Linked DNA regions of Homo sapiens. The protein of the gene in region 3 interacts with the protein of the main gene of each other region in a pairwise test. Each region holds a gene or a part of one and is shown on either strand. Other genes may lie near its edges.

Region 1 (2,476 bases), on a different chromosome or scaffold from region 3:
GGTTAAAGGCTTTGCCACACTCGTTACATTTGTAAGGTCTCTGTCCAGAGTGAATTCTCTGATGATTAGTGAGGTTCGAACTTTTGCTAAAAGCCTTTCCACAGTCATTACACTTGTATGATTTTTCTCTAATGTGTGTTCTCCCATACTGTGTATGTAATAAAGGGTATTTCAAAATCTTCCTATATTTATTACAAATGTTTTTGACACAAGGAGGAAGTGGTGAAACTGAGGAACTATTGATAGACTTCTCAACTGGATTACATTCATACATTTTCTCCCCAGTTTGAAATCTCTGTAGTTCAGCCAGCTGTGCCTGTAAGCTTAATCCAATTTTATTTTCAAAACACTTCACGTATTTGTTTCCGGCATACCTTATGTTATTTTTCAGTTTTAACAAATTCCTTATAAATGGCTTGTCATGGATGAAATACTGGTGTGCACTATCTCTTATAGAAACACTCTGCTTTAAAGAGAAATGTATTGAGGATTTATTATGTTGTTGATCTTTTCTGTGAGTGAGATTTTTGTTACAGGTCAAAGGCATTCCTTTGTAATTTTTTACATCATAGTCCCACAGGCTGTCAAACTTAGGCATATTTTCCCAGACTTCCTTGAGGTCAAAATTGTTGATGCCATGGCTTTCCTTTCTTTCTAATATCACCAGATGGTATAATTCCTCTTTATTATTTTCCTTTGGTGATAATCCCTTGCTTGTAAATCCAACAGAAATATCTGAAAGATATTAAAAAAACCACAGGCTTTCCATCAAATAGAGTTGCAAGGTAAATATTTTATTAAAATACATATTACAAGAAAGCTAAGATTTACAATGAACAGAGTTATGAAGCTTCTCAACTGTCTTTAAACGTTTAACAACACAAAGGGACTAGCTGTCCTCAATAAAGTAACACAGTAACAAAACATGTAACAAATTATTTTAAGCACAGTTTAAAACACCCTATAGCTAAAACACTCATACTATGTAAATCCACATAAACTCTGAAAGAAGAGGTATTTTTCCACCACCACTCCAAGGAACACGTAAATTGGCATAGCTATATGGTAGTCTCATATTTGAAGATAAACAAATAGTAATGCATTATTTAGTACATAATTATTACACACAAAAGGTAAGGCACAGCTCAAGCTTATCTAATAAAAAATATTTAAAAATGACAATTCATAATTGCAAACAAAACACTGAAAGAAAAAATTCGGAAGAATTTAATAAAATTTTGAATATTTACAAATTGCAAATGTGAGTACTTGTTATAAAACTACTTACACCCATGTAGAATGTGCATTTTGCAGCATTAACAATTTGTGCATGGTGGTTCTATTGCATAATATATACTGAAAAACCATCATCTGTAAATCATTACAAAAATAAATAAAACACTTTAGTAACCTGTGAAAATCTAACAGGCAAGTTAATGAACAACCACAATTACACAAAATTGTCAGTGAAATTCTAAAGAATTACTGCTTATGAACTACAGAAAAAACAGAAGGGACACACAATAGGAAAAATAATATGTTGAGAATCACTAAATTTTGAAATATCAGCTTCAGGTAAATGCACATTACTATAAAGATGAAGAATTAGGAGGGGAGTCTGAAATAATTTCATGCCTGCAGTTATATGACAGCAGTATATAGAGAAACTCCCTGACTAGGAAATGTCATCTAGTTTTCCAGTTCTATGGCCAAAAAATACATATAATGAAAGCTGTGTGCTTTAACATTTTATTATGTAGAGTCAGAGAAATGTTGATATGAAAAAAAAAATTACAAAAAAGAAAATATGTAAGATATAATGAAGGCAAAGGTCAATCTCATAAGAAACATGACAGACACTTGACATATCTTATTCATAAAGGTAACTTTTCAAAGCATACTAAATGCTATGCAAGTTACTAAGGTCTCTAACAGCACTAATTGATGTAAATCCTCTTGAGGTAAATTATCGCACCTTTTCATACCAAAACAAAGGGCTGAAGAGGTTTACATATCTATCCCTAACTCACAGAGAAAGCACATCTGAAAGCCAGAATCTGAACCTGTGTGTGCGGGCTAAGATGCCATGTTCACAGCATTAAGCACCACTGGCCACCCAGGGCAGCACGGATTATAAATCACAGCAAATACGAGGAGTGTAGGAAGAAATGTTTCAAGGCAGATTATGGGACCTGAGCTGTGTCACCTATAGTGTGACAGCACCACTGCTCTCAGATAGCATTTAAGTCACCTTATCTTGCACAAGTTGTTTAGACAGTGACCAGATCATGTTGCTGTCCTGAGTAAGCTGTCCTGTGTATAAGCAGGAGTCATTCTTTACACAGTGTGTGCAATGAAGGGATGTTATTCTGTGCTAAAAAGAAATGAGCTGTCAAGCTATAAAAAGACATGGAAGAAATTTATTTTATTTATCTATTTTTTGAGATGGAGTCTCGCTCTGTTGCCCAGGCTGGAG
Region 2 (3,600 bases), on a different chromosome or scaffold from region 3:
GACTCAGCACGGTCACGTCTGTCCCTGTGTCACCATGCCAGCTCTCAAAACCACTCCTCCTTTCCTCTCCCCTCACAGGGGCCTGGACGCTGCATCCTGGGCCCAGATCCACCAGAAGCTCCGGGACTTCTCCCGCAGCACCCAGGTAGGAGGCAAGGGCTGGCCCAGGCCCATCCTCACGCCATGCCCCAGCTCATGGCTTACATCCCCATGCCAGGCAGAGCTGGAACGGGAGCGGGCACAGCTGCTGGTCCGGGCCACGATGGCTGAAGAGCAACTTTCTGAGCTACAGGAGTACGTGGACCAGCACCTGGGCAGGTGGGCAGAGGGAGCTGGGTGTGACCCCAGGGCCCTGGTCTGGTTGGAATGAAGGATGATGGCTGCCTCAGGCGCTAAAAGCAGACCTGTCCACAGCTGGGCAAGTCACTTAAGCATGGTTCCTCTGAGCAGGTACAAGCACGAAATCCTGAGGCTGAGGAAGCTGGCAGGTGCAGGGGACCCCTGGAAAGTGGGGGCTGTGCCTCCAGCCAAGCCCCAGCATCCAAGGACCGGCAGCCACTAGGCCGTCTCCCAAGGAGCAGAGCAGAGCAGAGCTCCTCAGCCAGCACAGAACCCTCCCACCCAGCCCCCCATAAAACATGAGTCAGGATAGAACCCACAGAGTCTTTATCGTGTCTAATACTCAGCTGGCCTGAGAAATAAGGCCCCCCGGGATGGGGGCAGAACTAGGTCCGGGGGCAGCCTGGATGGGTATCCGCGAGGAGGCGGCCTCCCCAGCCTGCCCACCCTCAGGAACATCATAAGCCCATACTCGGTCCAGGCCCTCGCCAACCGCGGTCACAGGCTGCCAGGTGGGGAGTGGGAAGCGCCCAGACACCACGCGGGCCCCAGCAGGCAGCTCTGTCCGCAGCTTGTCCTCCAGCAGCGGGAGCTGAGGGAGAGAACAGCAGAGTAGAGGGGGCGGGGGCGGGGCCGGTAGAAAACAGCCGCGCTCACCCCCCTAGCCCCAAGCCTAGCACCCACCAGGCAGGCCCAGGCCTCAGAGCAGCAAACACCCTGGGGTGTGGCTGGGGCTTCCCAGCGGGGCTGGCAACCCCGCACCTACCACGCTAGGGGCCAGGAACACAGACACGTTGCGGCAGTCCCTCAGGCTCACCTGCCGGAAGAGAAGTCGCCCCGGCCGGGGAGAGGCCTGGTGGGCACCGGGTCATCGCAGCTTCCGAGTCCCGGCCCCCAGCCCTCGCAGGTGTCAGCCGCACCTTGGGCTGTCAGCGGGTGGCCAGGGATCCCCAGGTTACCTTCCAGAGATCCTTGCGGCGATAGCAGACGCTGCCGGCACAGCCGGCCCTCCAGGCGTGCAGCCGCGCCAGCGCCACCAGCCAGGGGTTCAGCTCGTAGCCCACGGCCGGGCGGAGGCCGCACCTGTGGGCCGCCAGCACCTGTGGGCACCGAGAGTGTGGGAACCAGGATGTGGGCAGGGGCGCCCGCCAGCAGGTGGGCGGTGTGGGGCGGCGAAGACCCAGACGCAGGCACTTACGATCCTGCCGTCGCCAGAGCCCAGATCCACCGTTTTTCCGGGGCGTCCTCGCAGCAGCGACAACACGTGCTCCACCTGCCGCGCGCTCGCGCCGACGTAGGGCACCTGGACCGGGTGGCGGCGAGAGTCCACTGGCCGCTCCCGCCCCGCCCGCAGCCCGGCCCGAACTACCACACGGCGGGGCGGAGCTCACCCCGGCCACGCCCAGACCTTGAGACCCTGAGCGGCAGCCGAGCTCCCCTGCCCGGCCTGGCCCCGCCCCGCACCTGCAGCCGCAGCGGCACGCGCCGGAAGCCGGGCTGGAGCAGCAGCGCCCACACCGCGTAGGCTGCCAAGCCCGAGCCGGCCGCCGCCTGCAGCAGCTCCAGCGCGCCCAGCCGCCGCTCGCGCAGCTCCGTCAGCGCCTCGACCGGGTCGTCCTGCTCCATGGCTGCGGGACGCGCGGCTCGTCCGCCCAAGGTCCTTCCCGGCTCGGGTCCGCGGCCCTCGCAGCCTGGCCTGGGGCTGGCGGTGTGCCCTCTGCCTCCTGCCGGGAGCCGCCGCGCGACACCGGAAGTGGCCGGCAGAGCCTGCGCGGTCGGTCCGTGGCGCTGTGCGCTCCGCCCAGCCCGGCTGCCCTCCCGCGGGTTCCGGCGAGCTGCAGCCTCGGGGGCTCTGCCCCGCCGCGTCCGGCTCCAAGCCTGCGAGGGTCGGCTCCGTTGGTCCGCTCTGCGGACCGCCGTTTGCGGCCTGTGCTGGCTGCTGGCGACCCGCGGAAGGGGACAGGCAGGCCCTGCCCTGGGGGAGCGCACGTGCCGGCGGGAGTCGGGATACACCCGGCGATCTCACGGGCTAGAGCCCCAGGGAAACGGGGCTGCGCGTCTTTGTCGTGGAATGAAGGGAAGTCTGCCTTGGAGAGGGGCGGTCCTGGCCCCAGAACCAGCCGGGGGCTCGCGTGGGGCGGCTGGAGCCCAGGGAGCCGGTGGGAAAGCGGCTCCCCGGGATGAGACAGCGTCCAGGCGCCAGCACCCCCATGACTCTGCCTCGGGGAGACTGCTGGGGGCGCTCCGCTGACTCGGACACCCAGCGCCAGCCAGAGCCCGGGAGGACATCCTTCCATTTCCCTCCTACAGCCTGAGCGATGAGCCCCAGTGGGCGGTGAAGGGATGGGGGGTGGGGTCTGAGGGAGAAGGGCATGGAGGAGGGGCTGACACGGAGGAGAGCTTGAGCAGGCCCAAGAAGACAGATGCTGGCTCTCAGGCGAGTGTGGTGGGAGGAAAGCCGGATGTCACAGGCGGGGGCCTCTGGCACCTGCCAGCTACAGGGAAGGCAGACAGCCCCGGGAGTGGGGAGATCACCTTCCTTCTCCAGAAAACAACACACAAAAAGACTGAGTTCCTGGAGGTGACCTTGTGAAGCTGGGGGTGGGAAGCGCAAGTGGAAGAGCCGAGCTCTGGGTCAGGCAGCTGGGCCACGACCTCCACACCCAGGGTAGGGCTGAACACCCGTGAATGTCGGGGGTTGTCTATGCGTGCCCTGGCCTAGCTCCTCCTTAGCCATCCGTGGCTGGGGTCTAGAGCCCCTGCAGGGACAGAGGCTGCTTCCAGACATGGGTATGCCGCAGACCACAGCCCCCAGCTCCCAAGTGCAGAGTCTCACAGGCCTGCCCACGTTGGCCCCAGCCCCACCCAGCTCAGCGTGTCCTGTCTCCTGGGGGCCTGGAACGGCCCTCCCAGGAAAGGAAGGGTGTATGTACACTGAGCTCTAGGGGGAGCTGACAGCGCCCATTCCTGTCCTGCTGCCTGCATTATTCCCTGCACCTAGAGCAGTTACCTAGGAGGCTTACTGGATGAATGCACCTAATTGGACTCTAGCGTGCACTCTCCACTCTTCTTTTTTTTTTTTTTTTTTTTTTTTTTTTTTTTTTGAGACTTGAGTCTCGCTCTTTCGCCCAGGTTGGAGTGCAGTGGCGCAGTCTTGGCTCACTGCAACCTCTGCCTTCCAGGTTCAAGTGATTCCTCTGCCTCAGCCTTTTGAGTAGCTGGGATTACAGATGCATGCCACCATGTCTGGCTAATTTTTTG
Region 3 (3,655 bases):
TCTGCTTCGATGTTATTAGTTTGGGCCTGAAATCTTTTCTGCTGCTATTCCTTGGTAATACAACTGAAATGCAAGGGACTTCCTTACCCCATTTTATTGAACAGTCTCTAAATACCACCTTTGCACATGCCATGAGTCTCTGAAACCCATTATTTTACCAAGGGAGAGATACAGATAGAACAGGTAGAATGTAAATCTCAGAAATCATCCTGTTTATACCCACATAAAATATAATAAAACTACAAATCTCTCACTTATTTCATGCCGGCAGCGTGCCAGGTAATATACCAAACACGTGGGGCTCACCAGCTCATGTATCACTCACAATTCTACCAAGTTGCTATCTTGTACCCACTTTATAAGAAGAAGAGCCTGAGGTTCAGAGAAGTCCAGTAACTCACCCAAGGTCACACAGCAAATGTGGAGGGTTCTCAGCAGACCCCAGGGCCCATAAGTGGTGGAGGCAGGAGGGAAATGTGTGTCTGTCTGGCTACAGAGCGTGATACTTCCACCCTGCCATGCTGCCACACCATATCACACACAAACTTCTCACGTGGCCACCATGTGAGGTGGTTATAAGCACTAACTCTGGCCCCAGCTGCCTGGGTTCAAATCCCAGGTCCACTACTTATCACTGTGTGACTTTAGACAAGTTAATTAACCTCTCTGTGCCTTAACATCCTCCTCTGTAAGTGGGGTAGTACAGTTCCCACTTCAGAGGATTATGGAGAGGATTCAATGAGTTAACATGGAAAGCATTTTGCCCTGGGACTGGCACATAGTGAGGGCTTTATTGGTTTTAGCTACTAGGCATGGGAGTACATTAACCCCTCCCTCCCCAGCCAATGCCCATCCAGAGTCTCTCTGAGAGGTCAGCAGCTCTGGCTACGATCTTCATGAGCCAACTGGTCCATCTGGGACCAGACTCCCTCCCCACCCCAGACCCCAGCACCCAGCAGAACCCAGGTGGCCAGATGCCTACGTCATGTCCCATTCAGGCCACTGGCATCCAGCAGACTCCATGCCCACTCTGCAGGCCCCGGGCTGGCAGCCGGTCTGCTACTGTGCACCCCCTGCTCCCCTGCAGTGTGGGAAGCCTACAGGGACACAGCTTCACTGTGGAAAGCCACAGCCCATGGTGGGTGCTGACCCCCTGAGATTCTGCTCCTGCTCCTGGGAAAATTCGACTTAAGTCAGCCGGGGGAGGGGCTGGGCTCCTCAGGGTGCTTGTGAGAGACATGGAGCCTGCAGACGGCTGGGCTGCGCTGTCACCTACGCCTGGCACATGGGACAAATCTAATAAATTCTGTTTGGGCGAACACAACCACGCAGGGAAGACTCATATGCTTCAAGTCTTGGCATCAGCTAGTCTGAGATTAATTATAAAATAAAATTATAACAATGAGAAGCAGTGACAGCCGAGGTGACTCCAGCTTTGTGAAGTGTTCCCACACCTCCACCCCCGGGATCCCACCATGTCCCTGGTGACCACTGCTGCCTGCCAGCAACAGTCCCACCGGGGAGGGGGACCCTAAGGCTCCAAGAGGTGATGCAACCCCCACCACACAGCAGGTTCCCAGGGCCTGCAGAACCCTCTTTCCTTCCTACGGCCAGTGGCCCTGCCCTGCCTGGGGACGCCGCAGCTCAGTCCCTACCTGGGTGTCCAGATTCTGCACAGACAGGCCCAGGCGGTCCAGCTTCTGGTTGACAAAGTTCACGATGGCCTAACCAGGGAAGAACAAGGGCCTAGCACACAGCAGGTGTGATGGGAGGACCCGTGATTCCCTCCTACAGCGCAGGTGGGCAGTGGGTGGGGTGGGCAGCCTGAGAGCCGCTGAGAGCTTTGATCTCTCCTACCTCTTTCACTGCGTTCACTTTCTCCGGAGCCAGCTTAAATAATTCATCAAAGACGTCCTCTGCAGACACAGATCCAATAAACACCTCATTACGATGCTATTATCTTTGTGCCAAACAGGGAATTTTTTTTTTCACAAAAGTTTCTTAGAATAACCAGTCCAGAGGGAGCTGTCGTTTTACATCATGGTTCTCAAATAAAACAGACCTGGATTTGAGTCACTGCTCTCCTGGCCGTGTGGCCCCAGGGGAGTCACCGTCTCTCTCTGTGCCTCCCTAGCTGGGGTTGTTGCAGAGATGGAATTCCATAGCAGATAACACACATGGCCCCATGGCACAGTGACTGGGCACACAGTAGGACTTCATAAACAGCCACTCTTCCTGCAGCTGACACCTGTTACTACATCTGCACAGCTGCATCCCTTTATCTGCCAGCTGGCACTCCCTCCTCCCAGGGCCCTACTCCACTCCCCAGGGCCACGGGAGCTGCCACAGGTGGGTGATCAGGGTCCATGAGTCTCCTCCCCTTGGTTTTAAATTGGCTGAGTGAGGACTGCTCCCTGCTGCCTCCCCCCGCCCCCAAGAGTGTCTGAACCTGCTGCCTGCAAAAGGCCAGCTCTTCAGCAACTCAGTCACTCCCTTGGGGTCTGGGAACAGCGGCTCAGGCCCTGGGGTCCAGCCTCGGGTGCCCATGTCCTCAGGCTAATGCCCTTTGTGCACTAGCTGGATTCCTGCTATTTGCAGCTAACATACCTCCCATGGGGACACTGGTCCTTGGGCACCAAATACACAGACTGGCCTGAGTTTGCTGTGGCTTCTGCCACTCAGCAGCTGTGTGACTCTAAGCAAGTCACAGCACCTCTCTCTGTTTCAGTTCCCTTGTTAGTGAAGGGGGAAAAGTAGCACCAAATAGCATCATGCACGTTAAAATGCCCCTGCTCTGTGTCCTTTCTTCACCCTCTGACACCCACTTCTCATGCTGCCCCCTGCCCAAAATACTGCTCCCTGGGCAACCCCTCATGTCCTCAGGCTGCCCCTCCTGCTACATACACAGATCCTCAGCCAGCCCTCCTTGCCCCTCCTTTCTCCTTTCTCCCCAAACTCCGCCTTCCTCAGCCCCCATTCTCAGAAGCTCCTGGCAGGTTATTATCTCTACCTCTGCAGGGAAGGTGCCCCTCATAGCATCCCTGCCCACATAGCTATGTGTCTAAGTGGGGAGGGTATAGGGAGGAAAAATAGTGTTAGGATGGATGGATATGGGTGAATACATAGGTGGTTGGATGGGTAGATAGATGAATGGGTGGATGAATAGGTGGGTAGGTGGATAGATGAATGGATGGATGGATAGGTGTGTGGGTGGATGGATGGATAGATGGATGGATGGATGGATGAATATATGGATAGGTGGGTGTATGGATGGATGGATGGATAGATGATGGATGGGTAGGCGGATGGATGAATGGAAGCATGAATGGATGGATGGAGGGATGGATGGATGGATGAATGCGTGGATAGGTGGGTGGGTGGATGGATGGATGGATGGATGGATAGGTTGATGGATGGATAGGTGGATGGATGGATGGACAGGTGATGGATGGGTAGGTGGATGGATGAATGGAGGCATGAATGGATGGATGGAGGGATGGATAAATGGATGGGTGGGTGGATAGATGAATGGAAGAATGGGTTGATGGATGCATGGGTGTATGAATGGATGGATGGATAGGTGGGTGGGTGGATAAGTGGGTAAGTAGATAGATGAATGGAAGAAAGGATGGATCAATAGATGGATAAATAGATT

The links.
Region 1: the proteins of PARVG (region 3) and ZNF677 interact in a two-hybrid assay, tested with the Homo sapiens proteins (one large-scale study listed by BioGRID and IntAct).
Region 2: the proteins of PARVG (region 3) and ANTKMT interact in binary tests that used the Homo sapiens proteins (3 or more experiments, as listed by UniProt).

The regions. Positions count from the first base shown.
Region 1 is NC_000019.10:53,237,823-53,240,298, forward strand, and holds part of ZNF677 (zinc finger protein 677), read right to left. Parts: exon of another isoform or gene 1,372-2,476; coding exon of another isoform or gene 1,340-1,371; exon of another isoform or gene 774-1,339; intron 736-773; coding exon 1-735. UniProt on the Homo sapiens protein: May be involved in transcriptional regulation.
Region 2 is NC_000016.10:719,640-723,239, reverse strand, and holds ANTKMT (adenine nucleotide translocase lysine N-methyltransferase), read right to left. Parts: upstream 2,095-3,600; 5' UTR 1,966-2,094; coding exon 1,804-1,965; intron 1,643-1,803; coding exon 1,538-1,642; intron 1,440-1,537; coding exon 1,299-1,439; intron 1,157-1,298; coding exon 1,106-1,156; intron 932-1,105; coding exon 683-931; 3' UTR 650-682; downstream 1-649. Other genes in the region: CCDC78 (coiled-coil domain-containing protein 78), read left to right, coding at 79-318, 451-562.
Region 3 is NC_000022.11:44,194,416-44,198,070, reverse strand, and holds part of PARVG (gamma-parvin), read right to left. Parts: intron 1,917-3,655; coding exon 1,858-1,916; intron 1,725-1,857; coding exon 1,656-1,724; intron 1-1,655. UniProt on the Homo sapiens protein: Plays a role with ILK in promoting the cell adhesion and spreading of leukocytes.